Regions from separate parts of the Homo sapiens genome. Here region 2 is linked to region 1. The links come from fine-mapping of genetic effects on gene expression. A gene starts in region 1. The other region holds a variant in brackets. All regions are shown on one strand. Distances are between the middles of the regions. Region 1 holds the start of TEX261 (testis expressed 261). Region 2 holds the start of NAGK (N-acetylglucosamine kinase).

The links.
Region 2: its variant is fine-mapped to the expression of TEX261 in whole blood (TOPMed, PIP above 0.99).

What each region holds. Positions count from the first base shown.
Region 1 is chr2:70,989,407-71,001,633 of GRCh38, reverse strand. TEX261 (testis expressed 261) reads left to right here and starts at 6,761. Exons shown (of 6, transcript NM_144582.3): 1 at 6,761-6,946; 2 at 7,859-7,938; 3 at 9,651-9,804; 4 at 11,818-11,885. The coding sequence starts at 6,877. LOC105374796 (a long non-coding RNA gene) reads right to left here and starts at 376. Exons shown (of 2, transcript XR_940232.3): 1 at 242-376. RefSeq lists enhancers at 1-826, 5,950-5,999 and silencers at 6,540-7,069, 7,100-7,189.
Region 2 is chr2:71,064,642-71,072,641 of GRCh38, reverse strand. It overlaps NAGK (N-acetylglucosamine kinase), which reads right to left and starts at 3,994. Exons shown (of 10, transcript NM_017567.6): 1 at 3,930-3,994; 2 at 2,056-2,140; 3 at 1,803-1,901; 4 at 815-956; 5 at 1. The coding sequence starts at 3,958. RefSeq lists enhancers at 85-144, 175-254 and a silencer at 3,709-3,768. The variant G/A (reference allele first, on the strand shown) is at 3,791.

The DNA of each region.
Region 1 (12,227 bases):
AGCCACACCGGGGGAGGAGAAGACTAGGCAGAGGGAGGGCCCTGGGCCTCCAGGCCTGTCTCTGCCATGTCTGATTTCACAGTGTCTCTCACAGTCTCTCACACAACAACCATCGTCTGTAGCCAGACCATGCCGGGGCAGCAGGAGCCCTGATGCCGAGGTGGACCCTGTCTACAATTTTGTGTACTGTGTGTGTGTGGTGGGTGGGTGTCGGCTGTGTGTACTCTCGGGGCCTGCCCACCTGGCCTTCATGAGTCGGGTAGTGGGGTCCCCACTGTCTCTCAAAACTGCTTTCCATAAGCGATGAACCTGGCTTCGGTCCTCGCCAGCTCCTCTGGTCGCCACTAGAGGGCAGCAGCCAACACAGCCCGGCAAGGGGAACTTTGGCGGCCGACTTCCGGCCGTACCGCCTCCTACTTCCACCTCCCCGCACCTTCCTAGCCCCTGGGGATGTGCAGGTCCCCAGCGTGTGGGTGGACCACTGGGACCACAGATCCTACTAAGGATGTCCTTGGCCTCAGGCATAGTGAATGTGTAAGTCTGTTAGAATGAGAAGGGGAGTGGGTGAAGACAGTGGAGGGGACCAGGGGTGGTCAAAGCCAGAACCCTGAGGTGTATTCATTTGTTCCTGCAAGGATAAAGGCAGGGGAGAAGAGGAAAAGCCCGGGGGACCAGGCAGCCTGCAGGGAGATGAGGCAGGACCCAGCCCACTGGCCAAATGGCACCTGATGACAAGGCAGGCAGAATCACCCTAACTGCAAAGTCAGGTGACTCAACTCAGAAAGACCAGAGAAAACCATGTGGACTCCGGAGCCAGCCTGCCCCGGTTTGACCCCTGGCTGCTTAAAATATTAGTGGTATGACTTTGGACAAGATATTGAACCTCTCCGTGCCTTGGTTTCTTAGCTGTGATGGAGACAGTAATAGTATCGCCTGTGCTAGATGTGTGTATTAAATAGGTTAGTACATACAAATCACATAGAGCAGTGTCTGACACAGAGAAAGAACACTATAAATGCTAGCAATTATTGCTTTCTGCACTTCATCTCAGCCAAAAACCTGAAAAGAAATTTGGTCTTTGTTTTCTGAAGCAGAGACACCTATTATGTTGAAATAACTAGTTTCCCCTAGAACCCTCTCATGAAATATACGGAGTTGGTCCTTCACCCTACAAACATTAAATGGTAACATTTGTGTGTGGTTTTTTTTTCTCTCTTTTTCTTTTTTTTCCCTTGAGATGGAGTTTCGCTCTTGTTGCCCAGGCTGTAGTGCAATGGCGCGATCTTGGCTCACCTCAACCTCTACCTCCTGGGTTCAAGTGATTCTCCTGCCTCAGCCTCCCGAGTACCTGGGATTACAGGCATGCGCCACCAAGCCGGCTAATTTTTTTAATTTTTAGTAGAGACGGGGGTTTCTCCATGTTGGTCAGGCTGGTCTCGAACTCCCGACCTCAGGTGATCCACCCGCCTCGGCCTCTCAAAGTGCTGGTATTACAGGAATGAGCTATCGTGCCCGGCCCTTGTGGGGTTTTTTGGAGACAAGGTCTCACTCTGTCACTCAGGCTGGAGGGCAGTGGTGCAAACATGGCTTATTGCAGGTTCAACCCCCTGGGCTCAAGGGATCCTCCCACCTGCACCTCTCAAGTAGCTAGGACCACAAGTGTGTGCCACCATGCCCAGCTAATTTTTTTTATTTCTTGTAGAGATGGGGTCCCACTATGTTTCCCAGGCTAGTCTTGAACTCCTGGGCTCAAGCAATCCTCCTGCTTCAGTGCCCAAATTGCTGGGATTACAGATGTGAGCCACCATGCCCGGCCACCTGTCAATATTTAAATCAACAAACTGGTCAGTCACCTTTGAACCTCCAAACCCTTTCACTCTTGAAATGAGTCCCTTGAATTGAGTGTGGGGACCTGCTATCCTTCCTTCCCTCCTTCAGGCAAGGCCTGGGTTTGCTCCCCTTGTAACTCCTTCCCCAAACACAGCCTAAGGATCCTCCCTGAGCCCCGCCCTGTCCTGTTGGGTCAGGTGGACCTGACTTCTCACCACTCTCAGGAAATGGTGGCCTCTCTCTTCCTGCCATCGGAGGAAATTTGAATCCTCAGCCTTACCTCTCTCAGGCTACTTTTGGCTTTAAAACTGTGGGAAGTGAAAGTGCCCAGCCCTGGAAAAACAAGGCTGGTTCAAAGGTGAAAGCACTTAACCTTTTGGGGCCTCCAGTTTCCCTTATCTACAATTCTGGAGAGGGATGGGGGATATTTTTATAGTTTCCTCCTTCCCTGGGAAGATGTTTAGGGAAAAAAAAATACCAATTGAGACTTTACTGGTTGGGTGTGGTGTCTCATGCTTGTAATCCCAGCACTTTGGGAGGCTGAGGCAGGTGGATCACTTGAGGCCAGCCTGGCCATCATGACAAAACTCCATCTCTACAAAAATATAAAAATTATCTGGGCATGGTGGTGAATGCCTGTAATACCAGCTGCTTGGGAGGCTGAGGCAGGAGAATTGCTTGAACCCGGGAAGCGGAGGTTGCAGTGAGCTGAGATTGTGCCACTGCACTCCAGCCTGGGCAACAGAGCAAGACTCCATGTCAAATAAGTAAATAAATGAGAGAGACAGAGAGAGAGAGAGAGAGTGAGAGAGAGATACTTTACTGTGCCGTTACTCACTGATGCTTCCGTGTCTCCAATACAAACTCCTCAATAGAAAAGATCTGGACATGAAGCTCCCCTATTGGAACAATCAGGGATGACCAAGTCCCATGACCTAAGGTTAGCAAACTTACCAGTAAGGCACAACTCAATGGTTTTTCCTCACATAGGGACTGGGTAACAACAGGAAATTGGAGACATCCTAGCAGGCCCATCATATTATGAACATTTTAATTGTAAACTTCATTTATGAATAGGTAACACCTTTCCATATCTTTACATAGTTCAATATTTTAAGGATATAAAAAGACATACAGTGGGAATGCTGTTTCCTACTCTGAAACCCCACCCCTTCTCTTCCTAGGAAGCAAGCAATATTACTGTTTTCTAACGTATCCTTCCAGAGATATTTTATAGAAAGAAATGTGTAGCCTGGGTGACGTGGCTCATGCCTGTATTACCAAAGTACTACTTTGGGAGGCTGTGGCAGGAGGATTGCTTGAGCCCAGGAGTTCAAGACCAGCCTGGACAGCATAATGAGACCTCATCTGTACAAAAAATAAAAATAAAAAAATCAGCCAGGTGTTATGGCATGCACTTGTAGTCCCAGCTACTTGAGAGGCTGAAGTGGGAGGATGTCTTGAGCCCTGTGGGTTGAGGGTGCAGTGAGCCATGATCTTGTCACTGTGCTCCAGCCTGGGTGACAGAGTGAGACCCTGTCCCTCCCTGCAAAAAATGTGTATATAGATTCTTTTCCCCATTCTTTTGCTTTTTTTCAAAAATAGTCCTATATAGGTACATAAAGAACACCCTCATTGGCTTTTAGGGCTAAATATACTTAACCAGTTTCCTATCAATGAACACTTAGGTTGTTTTCAGTCTCTTACAGTGCTGCAATGAAAAGCCTTGTAAATAAGCATATGGTGAGGCCGGGTGCAGTGGCTCATAACTGTAATCCCAGTACTTTGGGAGGCCAAGGTGTGTGGGTTACTTGAGGTCAGGAGTTTGAGACCAGCCTCGCCAACATGGCGAAATCCCATCTCTACAAAAATACAAAAATTAGCTGGATGTGGTGGTGGGCACCTGTAATCCCAACTGCTCAGGAGGCTGGGGCAGGAGAATCGGTTGAACCCAGGAGGCAGAGGTTGCAGTGAGCTGAAATCGTGCCACTGCACTCCAGCCTGGGCAACAGAACAAGACTCCATCTCAAAAAAAAAAAAAAAAAGGATATAGCCCTTTAAGGTCTCACTCTGTCACCCAGGCTGGAGTGCAGTGGTGTGATCCTGGTTCACTGCAACCTTGAACTCCCAGGCTCAAGCGATCTCCCACCTCAGACTCCTGAGTAGCCAGGACTACCGGCACCATTGCACCTGGATAACTTCTAAATTTTTTGTAGAGATGGGGTCTCACTTTGTTGTCTAGGTCAATCTTGAACTCCTAGGCTCAAGTAATTCTCCTGCCTAGGCCTCCCAAAGTGCTAGGATTATAGGCGTGAGCCACCCCACCATGCCCCATATACATATCTCTCAGGTATTCTTAACTGGGGGTCCAGGGACCCCTTAGAAGTCAGCAGGTATAGAATTTAGGGAGACAATTTTAAGACGCCTGGAAACTTGGAAGGAGAAAAGTTTCTATTTTTATCTATAACTCTCTCATATGATTAATGATATCTTGAAATATCATTTACCCTCACTCCTACTTTGTCATTGTGGTAGGTAGCTATTAGATTTTGCAATAGGTCTGCTTATGTCATATATTAATAGAGAAGCACATAAATTACAGAATACATTTGGTTTTCTAAAAATAGTTTAATACTTGCATTTCTATATAATTGGTTTGCTTTGTAATCTTTTTTGTTTTATTTTTGTTTTTGTTTTTGTTTTGAGACGGAGTCTCCCTCTGTCCCCCAGGCTGGAGTGCAGTGACGCGATCTCGGCTCACTGCAAGCTCCGCCTCCCGGGTTCACGCCATTCTCCTGCCTCAGCCTCCTGAGTAGCTGGGACTACAGGCGCCCGCCACCATGCCCGGCTAATTTTTTTTTTTGTATTTTTTAGTGGAGACAGAGTTTCACCGTGTTAGCCAGGATGGTCTCAATCTCCTGACCTCGTGATCCTCCCGCCTCGGCCTCCCAAAGTGCTGGGATTACAGGCGTGAGCCACCGCGCCCGGCAACTGCAATTTTTTTTTTTTTTGAGACAAGTTTTCATTCTGTCATCCCAGCTGGAATGCAGTGGCCCAATCATAGCTCACTGCAGCCGCCATCTCCTGGACTCAAGTAATCCTCCTGCCTCAGCCCAGAGTAACTGCGACTACAGGTACGCACCACCATGCCTGGCCATTTTAAAATTTTTCTTTGCCCAGGCTGGTCTTGAACTCCTGGCCTCAAGTGATCCTCCTACCTCAGCCTCCCAAAGTACTGGGATTACAGGCATGAGCCACTGTGCCCAGCCTGCTTTGTAATCTTTTTTTTTTTTTTTTTCTTGAGACGGAGTCTCGCTCTGTCGCCCAGGCTGGAGTGCAGTGGCGCAATCTCGGCTCACTGCAACTTCTGCCTCCCGGGTTCACGCTCTTCTCCTGCCTCAGTTTCTTGAGTAGCTGGGACTACAGGCGCCCGCCACCAAGCCCGGCTAATTTTTTGTATTTTTAGTAGAGACTGGGTTTCACCGTGTTAGCCAGGATGGGCTTTGTAATCTTATGTATTTTGTTGGGGGGAGGGGGAAGCTATGCATAACATAAAATTGACCGTTTTAACCATTTTACAATTCTGTAACACTGTATACAATTCAGTGACATTAAGCACATTCACACTGTTGTGATGCCATCAGCACCATCCATCTTCCCAAACTGAAACCCTGTATCCATTAAAAAGTAACTCCCCATTCTTTGTCCCCCAGACCCTGGCAAGCACCATTTAACTTTCTGCCCATGATTTTGACTACTCTGGGTACCTCATATGAGGGGAATCATACAATGTGTGTCCTTCCCTATTTGGCTTATTTCACTTAGCATCATGCCTTCAAGGTTCATTGATGTTGTAGCATGTGTCAGAATTTCACTTCATTTTAAGGCTAGATAATATTCCATTGTATGTTTATAGCACTTTATGTCTATCTTTTCGTCAACCGATGGACATTTGGGTTGCTTCCCTCTTCTGACCATTGTGAATAATGCTATGAATATTGGTATACAAATGTCTCTGCTTTCTCAGTTCTTTTGGGTATATACCCAGAAGTAGAATTGCTAAATCATACGGTAATTGTTTTTTTTAGGAATACGTATTTTTATGCAGGAAAAATATGATTCTGAAATAAGCCTACTAGACTCTTGTTCTACATACTTTATTTTGCATGCCTGTCTCCGCCACTAGATGGGAGACTTGTTGACAAGGACTAACCGGTTCCAGGTGCCCCTCAGGAACCCTCCCAGAGGTGTAGTAAATGCATCCAGCGCCTAGCGGACGCCCTGCGTGCCCGGCAAGGGGTGAGGTGCAGGCGATACAAAGGTGCAGAATGTACCCCAAAAGAACAGCCTAGAGGGGAATTAGGCCGGAGGATGACCGATTAAAATCACCCCAACTCCTGATTGTGCCGCTTCCTAGGTGCATGACCCAGGGCAACTTCCTTTGGCCCCGGCTTCCCCGTCTATAAAATGATTTACATTATCTGCTCAAATTTCCGACAAGAACACACCTCGCCTTTATCACAGAGCGTGGCACATATTAGGAATTCAATAATTTTGTCCCTATCACCTGCGATAGCAAGAGACAGACTTGTCCGCAACCTGCCGGGAGGCAGGTTCTGGGGAGGTTGCTGGGGCGCGGTCGGGCGGCCCTGTCCGGCCCTGGACCACCTCCAGGCTGGTACGGGAGTGCACAGGGAGGGACTGGAGGCTGCACTCCGAGCCCCAGTATGGGCGCTTGGTCGTCTCCGCCCCTGGGCACCGTCCCGCCTCCCTCTGGCTGCAGCGGTCTGCATTCATTCCCCTCAGTGGAGCGGGGGATCCTGGCGGGGCAGCGGCGGTTGGCCCTCCTCTCCGGCGGGCGGCGCTAGCGCGAGCCTGGCCCCGGGCAGCGCTAGGGCCGGGCTCCTCTCGGCGGCGGCGCACCGTCGTCCTGTCGTCCGCGGGGCGGGGACGCGGCGGCGGCGGCGGCGGTGGCGGCTGTGTGTCGCCGGAGCCGAAGCGCGCAGGCCCGTCCCGGTGGCCGGGGAGCGGGCGGGTGGGGGCGCCATGTGGTTCATGTACCTGCTGAGCTGGCTGTCGCTCTTCATCCAGGTGGCCTTCATCACGCTGGCTGTCGGTGAGACTGCACGACCCCGGCCCGCGCGGGCTCCCGCCCCGGCATCGGTGCTCGTTGGGGGTCGCATCGCGGGGGTTTCGGAGCCACTCGGGGGACCACTGCCCGGCGCTCCCGGCCTTCGCCGCCCCAACCCCTTCCCGCCTGATCCTGCCCCTCCTGTCGAGCCTGGCAGCCCGGCCTGACCGTGGCTCCTTCCAGGTGTCACAGAGTCCGCTCCGGCACTGCCCGAGAAAGGGTGACTCGAGTGCCGCCCCCGCGTCTGCGGACCGCTAACCGCTGCGGCTCCCACTCTTCGCGGGCCTGCCGCGCGGAACTTTTCCCCAACGCCTACCGCCGCCTTTGCGCCTCTGGCCCTTCATGCTCCCTGCTCTCTCCACCTTTGACACTTCTCCTCTGGCTGGTTCCCATTCGGCCTCAGTTGAGATGTCATCTTTTCCGGGAAGTCCACAGGGGTTGATGGTCCAGCAGTGCCCTGTCCTTTCCCTAAAGTAGCATTTCTCACACTAAACTCGTCTGTCTCTCCCTACTGTTCCCCTTCCCTTTCCCAAGCTGGGTCAGGGAAGGACCCTTGTCTGTCTTTTTCAGCTGTATTCTCAGCCCAGGGACCTGGCTCATGCCAAGTGCCCAGCAGGTGTTTATTGAATACGTGAAATTCCGTTTTCTGAGCCAGAGGTTATCATTGTACTGTGGCATCAAATGCAGACTTTCGTTGATTTTTATGAGATTTGTCCTTAGTTGCCCTAAGAAAGTTTTACTTCTCCAGACTTGGAAGGGCAACACATGGGATGTTTGGTTTGTTCTTGACCTTCTGGGGTCCATGAAGGGTGGATGGGGACTGGGCTGCAGAGAGAGGGGTGACCAGGATGGTGGGAGTGACCCTGGCTGATAGTCTCCCTGCCTCCCACCCTGCAGCGGCTGGACTCTATTACCTGGCAGAACTGATAGAAGAATACACAGTGGCCACCAGCAGGATCATAAAATACATGATCTGGGTAAGTGGCATCTTTCTCCAGGAGTCCTCCTCACTCTTTTGCCCTGCCTCAAAAGCAGGAAGTGGGGAGAGTTTGGCATGGATGATGAGGCCTGTGTCTCTGCTGTTTCCTGAGCATACACTCTTACCTCCTTGCCCTGAACGCTGTCTTTTGGGTCTGCACTCCTGGGCCCAGATCTTCCCTGGCCGCCTTCCCCAAGTGGCATTGTTTCACTGCAGGCCTTGTGCTCTAGTCCTTAAGGTGACAGCGAAGTGTACTTCTCTGTTGACAAGACCGTAGATTTGACTTTGCTTAGCTCTCTCCCGCTGTCTTTAGCCCTTTGCTCTGCTCACAGCATTTAAAACTTAGAGGAGCCATAAGACAGTTTTGCATATATGTTCATTGCCATCTTTCTAATCGGATCAAGTGATTTGTCCTAAGATCGGCACAGCTTCGCTGCCCTCGCCCTTCCCTGGTCTCATGGGAGGCTTCTCTTACTGAAGACACAGTCCTTGCCACTGATATCAAAGCCATAGGGGTGACTGCTGGTGGACAGACTTCCTTCAGCTGCAGGAAAGGCTGGGGGTAGGGGTGCCATTGGAGAGAAAGCGTCCACAGCCCCTCAAGTCGCCTGGTGTCAGCAGCCATGTGCACTCTGGGCATGGCTGAGGTTGGGAGTTCACAGTGGAGGCAAGACTATAGCCCTCAGCTCTGGTCCAGAGGCCCAGCTTGTGGGTGTTGGCACAGTAATTAGCCCTTCATTCAGCCAACTGTCATTTGCTAAGCACTGACAACTGTAGGTACTTATCAGTAGTGTTTTTCAAACTGTAGGCATGATTCATTATTTGGCTGTATAGTAGGTCACAATCAGCATTTTTTAAAAAAAGGAACATAAATAGAATTGAAATTTGAGCTTTGAATCATATATATGTATATATGTGTTGGGGTCACAGTGTAAAATGTTTTTCTTTTTCTTTTTTTTTTTTTGAGATGGAGTTTCGCTCTTATTACCCAGGCTGGAGTGCAGTGGCACAATCTCAGCTCACCGCAACCTCTGCCTCCTGGGTTCAAGCGATTCTCCTGCCTCAGCCTCCCGAGTAGCTGGGATTATAGGCATGTGCCACCATGCCTGGCTAATTTTGTATTTTTAGTAGAGATGGGGTTTCTCCATGTTGGTCAGGCTGGTCACAAACTCCCAACCTCAGGTGATCTGCCTGCCTTGGCCTCCCAAAGTGTTGGGATTCCAGGCGTGAGCCACCTCGCCTGGCAGATGTTTTTCTTACTGTGGGTTGCTGTCAAAAAGTTTGAGAAATGGGCTGGGTGCGGTGGCTCACACCTGTAATCCCAGCACTTTGGGAGGCCATCAGAAGTTTGAGACCAGCCTGGCCAACATGGCAAAACCCTGTCTCTACTAAAGACACAAAAATTAGCTGGGCGTGGTTGTGCATGCCTGTAGTCCCAACTACTCAGGAGGCTGAGGCAAGAGAATTGCTTGAATCCAGGAGATCGCGCCACTGCACTCCAGCCTGGATGACAGAGTGAGACTCCGTCTCAAAAAAAAAAAAAAAAATGTTGCCTTTTGGGAGCAGAGAACCTAGCTGGGGAGGCCAGACCTGTGAAATGAGGAGATTGAAGCATGAACCTAGTGCTGCCCAGAGCGGGCTGGGGGTTGGTGAGTCCAGGAACGTTGCCTGGAAGAAGCGCCCTGCACTGTCTGCCTCTGGTTGTTTCAGTTCTCCACCGCTGTACTGATTGGCCTCTACGTCTTTGAGCGCTTCCCCACCAGCATGATTGGAGTGGGCCTATTCACCAACCTCGTCTACTTTGGCCTCCTCCAGACCTTCCCCTTCATCATGCTGACCTCGCCTAACTTCATCCTGTCGTGTGGTGAGAGGGGACAGAGTTGGGGAGGCAGCTGATGTGGTTGGGTGTGCCCATCTCCATCCTGGGCACTAAAGGGGATACAGAAAAAGGAAGCCAGCTGTTGAAGTCCTCCAGGAAGCCAGGCTAGTTGGGAAGATGCGGTTCTTACTGCTGAGGACTCTAGAGCCCACCTTGGCTCTAGTGAATAGAATTTGTTGGGGCTGGGGACTCAGACAGGGAGGGCTTTCCCAGAGAGGTAAGTTTGAAGGAGAGTTTGGGAAAGAAGAGGTTGTGGATTGGCTGAGGCAGGGCCCCCAACTGAGCAGTTCCAGCCTCAAAAAAACCACTTGGCCAGAAAAAGCCCAAAGCCCTTCCGGTAGGCAGGCAGCTGTCCGTCCAGTCCTCTGACCCAAAGTCATTGTTAGGACTGGAGCCTCATGGGGCTGTGAGCACCTTGCAGACTCTGGCCTGGTGTGAATGCCTCCTGGGGGCTGCAGCTTCTCATCTCATTCTCACTGGCTGCCGCTGCCTCGGGCTTGAGCCTGGATGTGGAGGACCCAGTCTTCTTGGCGTTGCCCTGCCACCACTTTCTGACCCTGGGGAATCATTGGCCCTCTCTGGGCCTTAGCTTCTCCATCTATTCAGAGAGGATGTTTCTGAAAGAACTATTGGGAGACTCAGTGGGCATATAGTAGGTGCATATAGGTATTTACAGATATTCCTGGAAAAGGCTTCGGAAAGTATTTTGGTTGCCAAGATTGCCATTGCTCCTGTTCATCATTGCTGGCTACCCTAGCTTTCAGTCAGGGTATCAGATGGAGTTAGGGGTTTTTTAGAGTGACTTTTCTATTTCTATGAGAGAGCCTGGAGGGTGAATATTATCCACACAAAGGGCATATTGTTAAAGCCAAAACTGGTTTCTTCCTTGGGTGTGATTTCACCAAAGAATTTGTTCAGCAGAGGTTTGTTAGGGAGCCCTTCCATGGAGACCAGGCCCCTCTGTCCAGGGAAGAAGTCCTGCCCCCAGCCCCTCAGCAGCAGGCTCCCCTGACTTCACTCCCTTGATCTGCCCTTTAATGCCTAAAAGAGTTTTTCCAAAAGATCTTGTGGGCACCAGGCACTATCCTACCTCCCATTATCTCTTAGCCCTAGAGTGTGGCTAGGCATAGCAGAACTGTAGTCTTTGCCTTAGAATGGGAGAGGCAGGAGAGAAGAAAGGAGACATGAGAATTGCTGTGAGGTGTGTGTGAGGGGACAGTCAGTTTCAGGGGACATGTTCTTTCTGGTGCCTGCCCTTCACCTCACCATGGGAACCGGCAGGGATGACTGTCTCTTGAGCAGCCTGTGTCCAGGATATGCACACGTGCCCTCTTTTATAAACTCAGTTACACACCAAGGAGGGGTGGCTGTGTGTGTGTGTGTGTCCAGAACGTATCAGTTCACACCGGTATGCCTTACCTGGGGGCAGGATGAGGAGGGACCCCCTCCCCCAGAATGTTGAGGAACCTGAAGACTGCACCTCAAAGCATCTAGCAAGTCTTGCCCTTTTATTCCTGAGGAGTGAGAGCCTTTTTATTTGAGCAGGCCTTCTCCTTGCTGCCCAGTTTGTTTATTTGAGCAGGCCTTCTCCTTGCTGCGAGTTTGGAGTAGAGCCTCTTAGGGGCGTCTGGTCTGCACACCCATGATTTCTCCCCACCTGTCACTGTGGGAGAGCTTTCTTTAGCCCTCACATCCACGAAAAACGAGGTTCATCGTCATGATGCTTTGGATTATGTAACATAGAAGTCTCACTTTTATAACATGCAAAGAGCCTTCTTCTAATTTTACTCAGAATGCCCTGTGCAGTGGGCAGGTTGAGGCTCATTCTCCCATTTTAGCAGATGGGAAACGGTTCTAGGCAGTAGCCTACTCTGAGTTGAGTGTAAAGTCAGGCCTAAGACTCCATGGAGGCTCCCAACTTCTGAGGGCCTTTTGAAGTTAAAAGTACAGCTTTCTGTTATTCCCCTTAAACTGACTGACTCTTCATTCCCTCAACAGGACTAGTGGTGGTGAATCATTACCTAGCATTTCAGTTTTTTGCAGAAGAATATTATCCCTTCTCAGAGGTAAGAAGTGTCCAGCACATTCAGCTGTTAACAGGGACAGGGTAGTAAAAGGGAACTTGCATGGTTTACTTTATAAACTTAGCTATGATTTGAAACTGAATCTGTTCAAGGATTACATGTTTGAAAAAAACAAAACATAGATGGTTTGAGAAAGCTGTGTGGATGGGGACAGACTGTGCTCATTTGGCCGAGGTGGGGAGGACACTGCTCTTCCTCAGTGAGTCCTTTGGGTCCCCCTCGAGGGGTCATCCTGAGGTCAGGAAGGGGTACTAGGGTGACCTTCTCTGACACAGTCCTCACAGGGCAGGGATGGACTGCACCCCTGAGCCCCAGCTTTTCCCA
Region 2 (8,000 bases), 73 kb before region 1:
CCTGGGGAAAGGGAATAGGAGGCTCAGTGTGGCCGAGGCCTGGCACAGAGCAACAGCTTGCCACTGTGGAAAGACAGGACAGAAAACAGCCCCAGGCAAGGGAATCACCACCCAGTCCTGTAGAGGAGAAAACTGAGCCCAGCTAGTTTCCTGCCTGAGGGTGAGAGCCTGGGTCTCAGAAAAACTCTAATCCCATAACGCCCTCGTCTAGGGGGACAAAGAGAAATGCAAGCCTGCACCTCTTAGAGGGAATGTGGCTCCTTGCCCAGCCGGTCTTCCAGTGACTCTACCTGCTTTACTGGGATTGTGCTAGACCCGTTCTCACAGTGATATTCACTCATACCCTAAACCATCTTATGAATACAACTTCCTCTATTTTATAGATGAGAAAACTGAAACTCAGAGTTTTGGAACTTCGCCAACATGGTATAGCAGGCAAAACAGGAACTGGGATTCAAACACCAATCCCATGACACCAAAACTCTTTACACTATCACAAGGCCACCCCACTTCCTCCTCAGCACTGACAGCTTCCCCAGCCTGCCTTCCTCACTACACCGCCCCCAGGTGGTCCCTCATCTGCAGGGGAGTTATGTTTGACCCCACTCCTGGATTCCCATCAAGAGACCTTTCTTGCCCTTCCTCCTGCTGCCTGGTCCTTGCTCTGGCAGAGACTTAAACTACTTAAAGAGTTGAGGGGAATATAAGAGTGGCTGCCTTCTGGATATTTGCAGAACAAGTTTTGTCAGCTATATCTAAGGGGCTTTCCCAAAAAAACCAGTTCTCACTCTCACCCCTCCCTCCACTTCCTCACCATCCGGTGTAGCTGTGGCGATGGAGCCGGCGGCATCGGTGGTGATTAAGTAGCTTTCACTCAGGTAGGGAAATCGGTCCCTCAGCTCCTCGATCAGGATCCTCCCCGCGTCCTCCTGGTCCCCACCGCTCAGAGATAGGCCCTAGGCCACGCGGGAGGTGAGCGAGTGTGCAGAGCCCCAGCCCCAGCTCTTTTCTCAACCCCCGCCCCCTCCTGATGCCTGATTCCTGTTCTCCCCATCTGGCCATACCCTGTTCACCCAGCCCCAGTCCTCCTTTCTCCCCACACAATGACCCCTCAGAAGGCTGTGGTTATAAGAACAACCTGGACTGGGGATGGACAGAAGAAAGAGGGGATTCAACAATGCCAGCTTTGGAGCTTGGAAGGGCAGTAGTGCTCTTAACAGAAAGATCAGGCAGCGGGGCAAGGTGAGGGGAGATGGAGAGAGGTAAGCTTGGTTTGGTATACACGAGGTTTGCCTGTGTCTGCAGAACATCTCACATATATGTCCAGGGAGTAGCTGGAGCTACCGCAACTTGGGAGAAAGATCTGAACCAGGAGTAAATAATAGCTAACATTTAATGAGTGCTTATGGGTCAGGCTCTATACTAACCACTTTGCAATGTATCATGCCATTTTACTTTCCCAACAACTCTGAGGTAGCTACTATTCACATTTTCCAAATGAGGAAACTGAGGCTTAGAGAAGGTGAGTAACCTACACAGGGTTACGCAGATACTGAGCAGCAAAGCTGGGATTCAAACCAAGGTCTCAGCAGCTCTCCAAAGCCCTGTGCTCTTCCAACACATTTGTAGTTTGTAGGTGGCAACTGAAGCCATGAGACTGGGTGAGATTATGACAGTTTTGACACCAGGGACTAAGTCTTGGAGGTCTTTCCCTCTGCAGTCATCAAACTCATCTAGTCCAAACTTGCTAGCTGTCTCAGTGTCACAGATGGCTGAATTCCCAGGCTCCGCCCCAGACTCACCAAGCTTCGCAGCGGTACCAGAGGATCCACCCCTGCTTTCCGTTTGGCCCTGTTCACCATCTCATTGATCCTCTCCACACACTTGTCTGTCCCGATCAGCTGGCCCCAATCAAGGGAAGAAGGAGTTACAAAGGCTTACAGAAGCTATGTTGCCCCCACAGGCTGCTCTGTGAGTCCCAGCCACCACCTCAACAGGAATTACAGAGAATAAAATCAGAACCAAGCCCTCTGATCCCCTCAGTGTGGTTTTTACCCAGTGGTTTGTGCTCAGTCCATCTGCTTCTGCCAGGATCTTCCCATCCTCTGAGACTAAAAGGACCTCGGATCGTGTGCCTCCCCTACAGAACACAAGAGGGCACTTGATCTTGCTCGGAAAAACCCACAGAGAGAGCTAAGCTTGTGCTGTCCACACTGGCAGAGCCCAGTATGATGGAGGAGACAGCTTCGACAAACTCAATCACCACTCCCAAACCCGCCTCTGTGGTTCAGTGTTTGAGTGCTCTTTAACTGAAACATAATTCTCACTCCTCTTCCCTTGGGGATGTCCTCCTTATCCTGCAAGACTCTACTTACGCTTCACCTAGTCCTCGAAACCTTTTCTGAGGTGTGGCCCACCCCAACGAATTAGTTAAGTCTCCGTTAGTTAAACCTTCATAGTGCCTCCAAAGTTATTAAAGTCTCCTCTGTATGAAGTGTGTGTTCAGACGCTTTGTGTCCGCCTCTCACTAGACTTCAAGCTCCACTGGGTCAAGCTCCTGATCACTTACTTACCCTCTCAGAACGAGCACAGGAGCTGGCACAGGCAATGCTCAGCAAACACTCCTAAGAAAAATGGCACATCTCTCTGCTTCCCTCACAATAGCTAAAGACTGCATTTCAAGATCCAGCTGCCAAGGTCTTCAAGACACCTTTGCTAGAAATGCTGACCAGATGGCAGGGTGACTTCATACATACTTAAGCAACTAAACCTTCAAATGTTGATTACTGGGGGTCACAGTAGTTCACAGGGAGATCTGTGGTGATGGGATATATGTTTCTTTATTGATCATTACTTTTAGGAATGGCAGAAGAAGACACTGAAGACCGCTCATCAAACTCAAAGAGGACATGAAATTTCAAGGGGGTAGTTAATACATGAGGTGGCAGATTCCACATCCAAAAGCATGTCTTGACGAACTGGAAGAAACGGGTCATATCTTACAGATGACTATAACAAGGATGAATGCAGACTCCTATACTGTTTTTTTTAAGTGCTACAAATACAGGATGGGAAAGATCATTCCTAACAATTCATGTGAAAAGACTTTGGGGTCTGTGAATCAGCAGTGGGGTGTGGCTGCCAGAGAAGTGAAAACAATCACAGATTCGAAAGTACAGTGCCCTGGCTGAGAGGCCAGCGACCCCCATTATTCCCTGATTTGACAAACTCAGATTCACAGAATGTTGCCACTGGCAGGGACATAGCGATCTTATTTATCCCTATCCTCACTTTGCACATACGGTAACTGTAGCCCAGGGAGGGTAAATATCTTGTCCATGGTCATACCCAGGGGCAGAGCTATTACAAAAAGTTCAGTAAACAAGCTTCTGAGCAGAAAAATGCAATCTAGTGAAAGCAGCATGGAAGGCCAACAGGGATGGAGCGGTTTTCAGACATCAGGACAACCTAGTACTCTGGCTCGCAGCTGCTCCAGCTCCCGGATAACCTCAGCCAAGATCTTTGTCCCGCTTCTCCCCACTCCCACTCCCCACCCTGCCCGCGCTCAGCAATTTCACACCTGACACCTGTTCTGCAAAACTCTGTCCGAGGTCAGGAATAGGAAAAAGGAGCTGCTTCTCCAGCTGAAGACAGCGGAGTGGGTGTTTCGTGGAAGAAAGGGGCGTGGTTCCGCCAAGAAACACAAAGGATCCCCAACCCGGGGTGTGGCTGTTGCACAGGCAGAGTCCCCGTAAGGCATACAGCTGTGCGCTCCAGGGCGCCCCTGCGC[G/A]TGCACACACCTCTTCACCGCAAGGTCCCGCCGCCCAAAGTGCCCGGACGCCGAGGATCAAGGCCACCAGCTTGCCAGGCTGGCCACGGCCTTCCGCCCCGCCTTCGGGCCCAGGCTCCCTCCGCCGGGCCGCACTCACCCCTCTACACCCCCATAGATCGCGGCCATGCTGCTGCTACCGTCGCTGCTGGTCCCGCCGTTTGCGTCTCTCCCCGCCTGACACCTCCTTCCCTCCAGCTGTCTGGGCACCGCCCCACTTCCCGTGACCTCCCGCGCAGCCAGCTGACTCCCTGTGCGCGTGCGCATGCGCGGGGCGGGGCGCCGGTAGGAGCCGGGGATGGCTGCGTCCCTCAGGCTGTCTTCCTTCTGGTGTCTCCTCCAGGTGGAGCGACTGCGGTCCGCAGCGGCCCCTCCCGTCCTCCTGGATCCTGCTTCCAGAGATGGACACTAATCCCAAGAGGAGGAATCAAAGAGGGGTATCTAGGTCGGTCGGACCCTTAGGACACATCACTGACCTGCCTGCCTGTAAACGCCCGGAAGTTGCTGGCAGTCCCGCGTTAGGTTGCGCGTGCGCACTGCTCTTGGCCGCGTAGGTTGTGACGCATGCTCGGCCAGACCCCCGCGAAGCTGTGGGCTCAGGGACCTGCGCCCATGGACCTGTAACAGAAATTACTGTAATGTTCTACTGAACATCTGCCACGCGATGGCGAGTCACACGGGCACACACGAACACTCGCTCAGATTGTTGCCCTGCGCTCGTGTGAATGTACGGATCCGGGAGGAATTGGGACCTAAACAGACAAGCCCTCGAGGCGGTCCCGGCAGCCCTGAGGAGGGAGCCTTCACCTCTTCCTACCCACCCAGTTTACTTCTTGTGGAGGATATTTGCAGGGACATAGCCCACTGGGAGAACTAGCAGATACGGCTTTACAAGTTTTTTATTGCCTTTCAGCCCCCATTCCGCTCCCCTTCCTTGCGCTGCGTCGGGAAAGGGAATGGGATCCCTAGGGGTGCAAATACAGGCCAAGTCAGGGAGAGCTGTGGCTCCTGAGGGCCTCCTCTGGCTCCTCCGGGAAGTTTTGGGCCCTCAAGGAGCAGCTTCGCGGGCCAGGAGGGCGGTTAGCTGCCCTTGGCATCTTTTTGGGGAAATCAGTTGGCCTGTCGCGGGTCGAACTCTGTCCCCCTTGACTGCCTGCCATCTTCTGGAGAAACCCCTAATAGGCTGCTGTGTCTGGTTATGCTTTAGTGAGAAAATTAGGCTTTTTAAGCTTTCTCATTTCCTACCCTACCACGTTGTAATTCACAAAAGTAAAAAGTAAATCACTACATGATAGACTCTGTATCATGTATTCATTTATAGAATATATATCATATATTCTATATCAGATGGAGAATATAATAGAGGGTAGGATTTTTTTATGCCTGCCTATGGCATTTTTTTAATTCACAGCACTTTAGAGCTGGAAGATTATCCAACATACACATTTTTAGAATTACAGTTAGTAGATTGTGGTGCAATTAAACTGGGCAGGATTTTTGGAGACTAGATTGTAGGTGGATTTTGAAATAATTGTTTCTGTCCTGTACTACTGCAATGAGCCATGGGACGTATGTGTATAAATATTAAGTTTGTCTTTGTATTGCTTGTTTAGGCAAGCAAGCAAAAGGGAAAGTGCCCAGGTTTAAGACAAGAATTGAGTTCACCATTTACTAGCTGGATGAGCTTGGGTGACTTACAGGTAATTGCTGCAGCCTCTCCTCTACAAAATGGAAATGATAAACATCTACCTGCTGGGGCTGACGCAAGATTTAAATGCCAAAAGAGTTTTGGAAACCATAAAGTACTTCACAGATCTTAACTAACTTGTATTTACATTACCAATTAGTGTGTGCTGTCCTGCACAGTATCCATATGTGAATACTGAGCACTTGAAATGTGGTTAGTCCAAAATGAGATGTCCCGTCAATGTAGAATACACACAGGATTTCAAAGACTTACTACAAAAAAAGAGTGTAAGATACCTCATTAGTCACTATTATATGAATCACATGTTGAAATAACATTCTGGATGTAGTAGATCAAGATTATAGATTACTAAATTTTGCCAATCTATTATATTTTTTAGTGTCACTACTAGAATATTTAAAATTTTGACCTACATATTTCTGTTGTACAACCCTGTTGTCTCTATCTGGACCATAATATTTCAAAGTCACTGAATGCCTATTTATGAAATAAATAATGGCCATATAATTGATTTAAAGAAGAAAGTAGCCGGGCGTGGTGGCTCATTCCTGTAATCCCAGCACTTTGGGAGGCCGAGGGGGTGGATCACCCAAGATCAGGAGTTCAAGACCAGCCTGGCCAACAGGGCGAGACCCTGTCTCTACTAAAAATACAAAAGTTAGTTGGGCGTGGTGACAGGCGCCTGTAATCCCAGCTACTTGGGAGGCTGAGGCAGGAGAATCACTTGAACCCAGGAGGTGGAGGTTGTGGTGAGCCAAGATTGTGCCATTGCACTCCAGCTTGGGTGACAAGAGTGAAACTCCGTCTCAAAAAAAAAAAAAAAAAAAGAATAAATAAAATACGTTTATGTTGTACATTATAATTCTTTTTGTTTGTTTGTTTGTTTGTTTGTTTTGAGACAGAGTCTTGCTCTGTCGCCCAGGCTGGAGTACAGTGTGGCGTGATCTCAGCTCACTGCAAGCTCCGCTTCCCGGGTTCACGCCATTCTCTTGCCTCAGCCTCCCCAGCAGCTGGGACTACAGGTGCACGCTGCTACGCCTGGCTAATTTTTTGTATTTTTAGTAGATACGGGGTTTCACCGTGTTAGCCAGGATGATCTCGATCTCCTGACCTTTTGATCCGCGTACCTCGGCCTCCCAAAGTGCTGGGATTACAGGCATGAGCCACTGTGCCCGGCCTTGTACATTATAATTCTATAGAGCTCTTTTATGTACCTTTATCTTGTTTGATCATCCTAACAACCTTATGAGAATGACAGATTTTTTTTTTTTGAGACAGAGTTTCACTCTGTGGCCCAGGCTGGAGTGCAGTGGTGGGATCTCGGCTCACTGCAACCTATGCCTCCTTGGTTCAAGTGATTCTCCTGCCTCAGCCTCCCAAGTAACTGGGACTACAGGCATGTGCCACCACGCCCAGCTAATTTTTGTATTTTTAGTAGAGACAGGGTTTTACCATGTTAGCCACACTGGTCTTGAACTCCTGACCTCAAGTGATCTGCCTGCCTTGGCCTCCCAAAATGCTGGGATTATAGCAGTGAGCCACCGCGGCAGGCCGAGAATGACAGATTTCTGATCACATATTACAAATGAGGAAACGAGAGGCTCTAAAATAAAAGTAAAAAGCATAGGCTCACACAAATAATAGATGTGGCTTATTATGTGTGGGTAGTTAATATAAAGGGAAGGAAATTCAAGATGTTGCAATATAGCAAGATATACCAGTTTGCACTGGGCTTGCAACATCCCAGTAGCTGCTTCTATGACACTCACAAGGTTAATAAAGTTCTTTAAGAATCTGCAAGCCACAGTCTTCTTCTCTGTCTTCTGTACTTTGTTCCTATGACCCCAGGGAGGCCATAGTTTGGGAGTCAGGGGGAAGAGTGTTAAGAGAGACAATGGGAAAATATCTTTCCTCACAAATCCACTTAGGATTTTGGGACAGATGACTTTTGGTCAGGGTCCTCAACAGATTTTGTTGACTTTATTCATGAAACACAGCCACATCTGTTTTTACTCACCACAGCATGTCCAGGGCTAACCTCAGTACTCCACAAATAGCTTTGAGAGTGGTTTATAAACTATAAACACGGTGTCACAGACATGAGGGGTAGCAAATGCCTGATTTGAACTAAAGAAGGGAGCAAGCAAATTCCACAGCAGAAACTAAATTTACAGAACAGATCAGGAAGAGAAAGAGAAAATAAGGAGAAGTGAAATTGTGAACTGAGGGAGGAGTTGTTGGACGTGTGGTCAGGGAGCCTCAAAGAGATCTAGCCCTAGTCGGTCTTGCATTAGAAGTTGCCAGTACATGTGTGACCTCAGCACTGTGCTTTAAAATAATCTGGCAGGTTACTTATAGGGTGACAAATGGGAAGGGAGAGTTTGGAGAAGGGAAACACTTAGAAGGCTGGACATTGGCCCAGGTGAGAGATGAACAAGCAAGTGGTGGAGGTGGAGGTGGAGG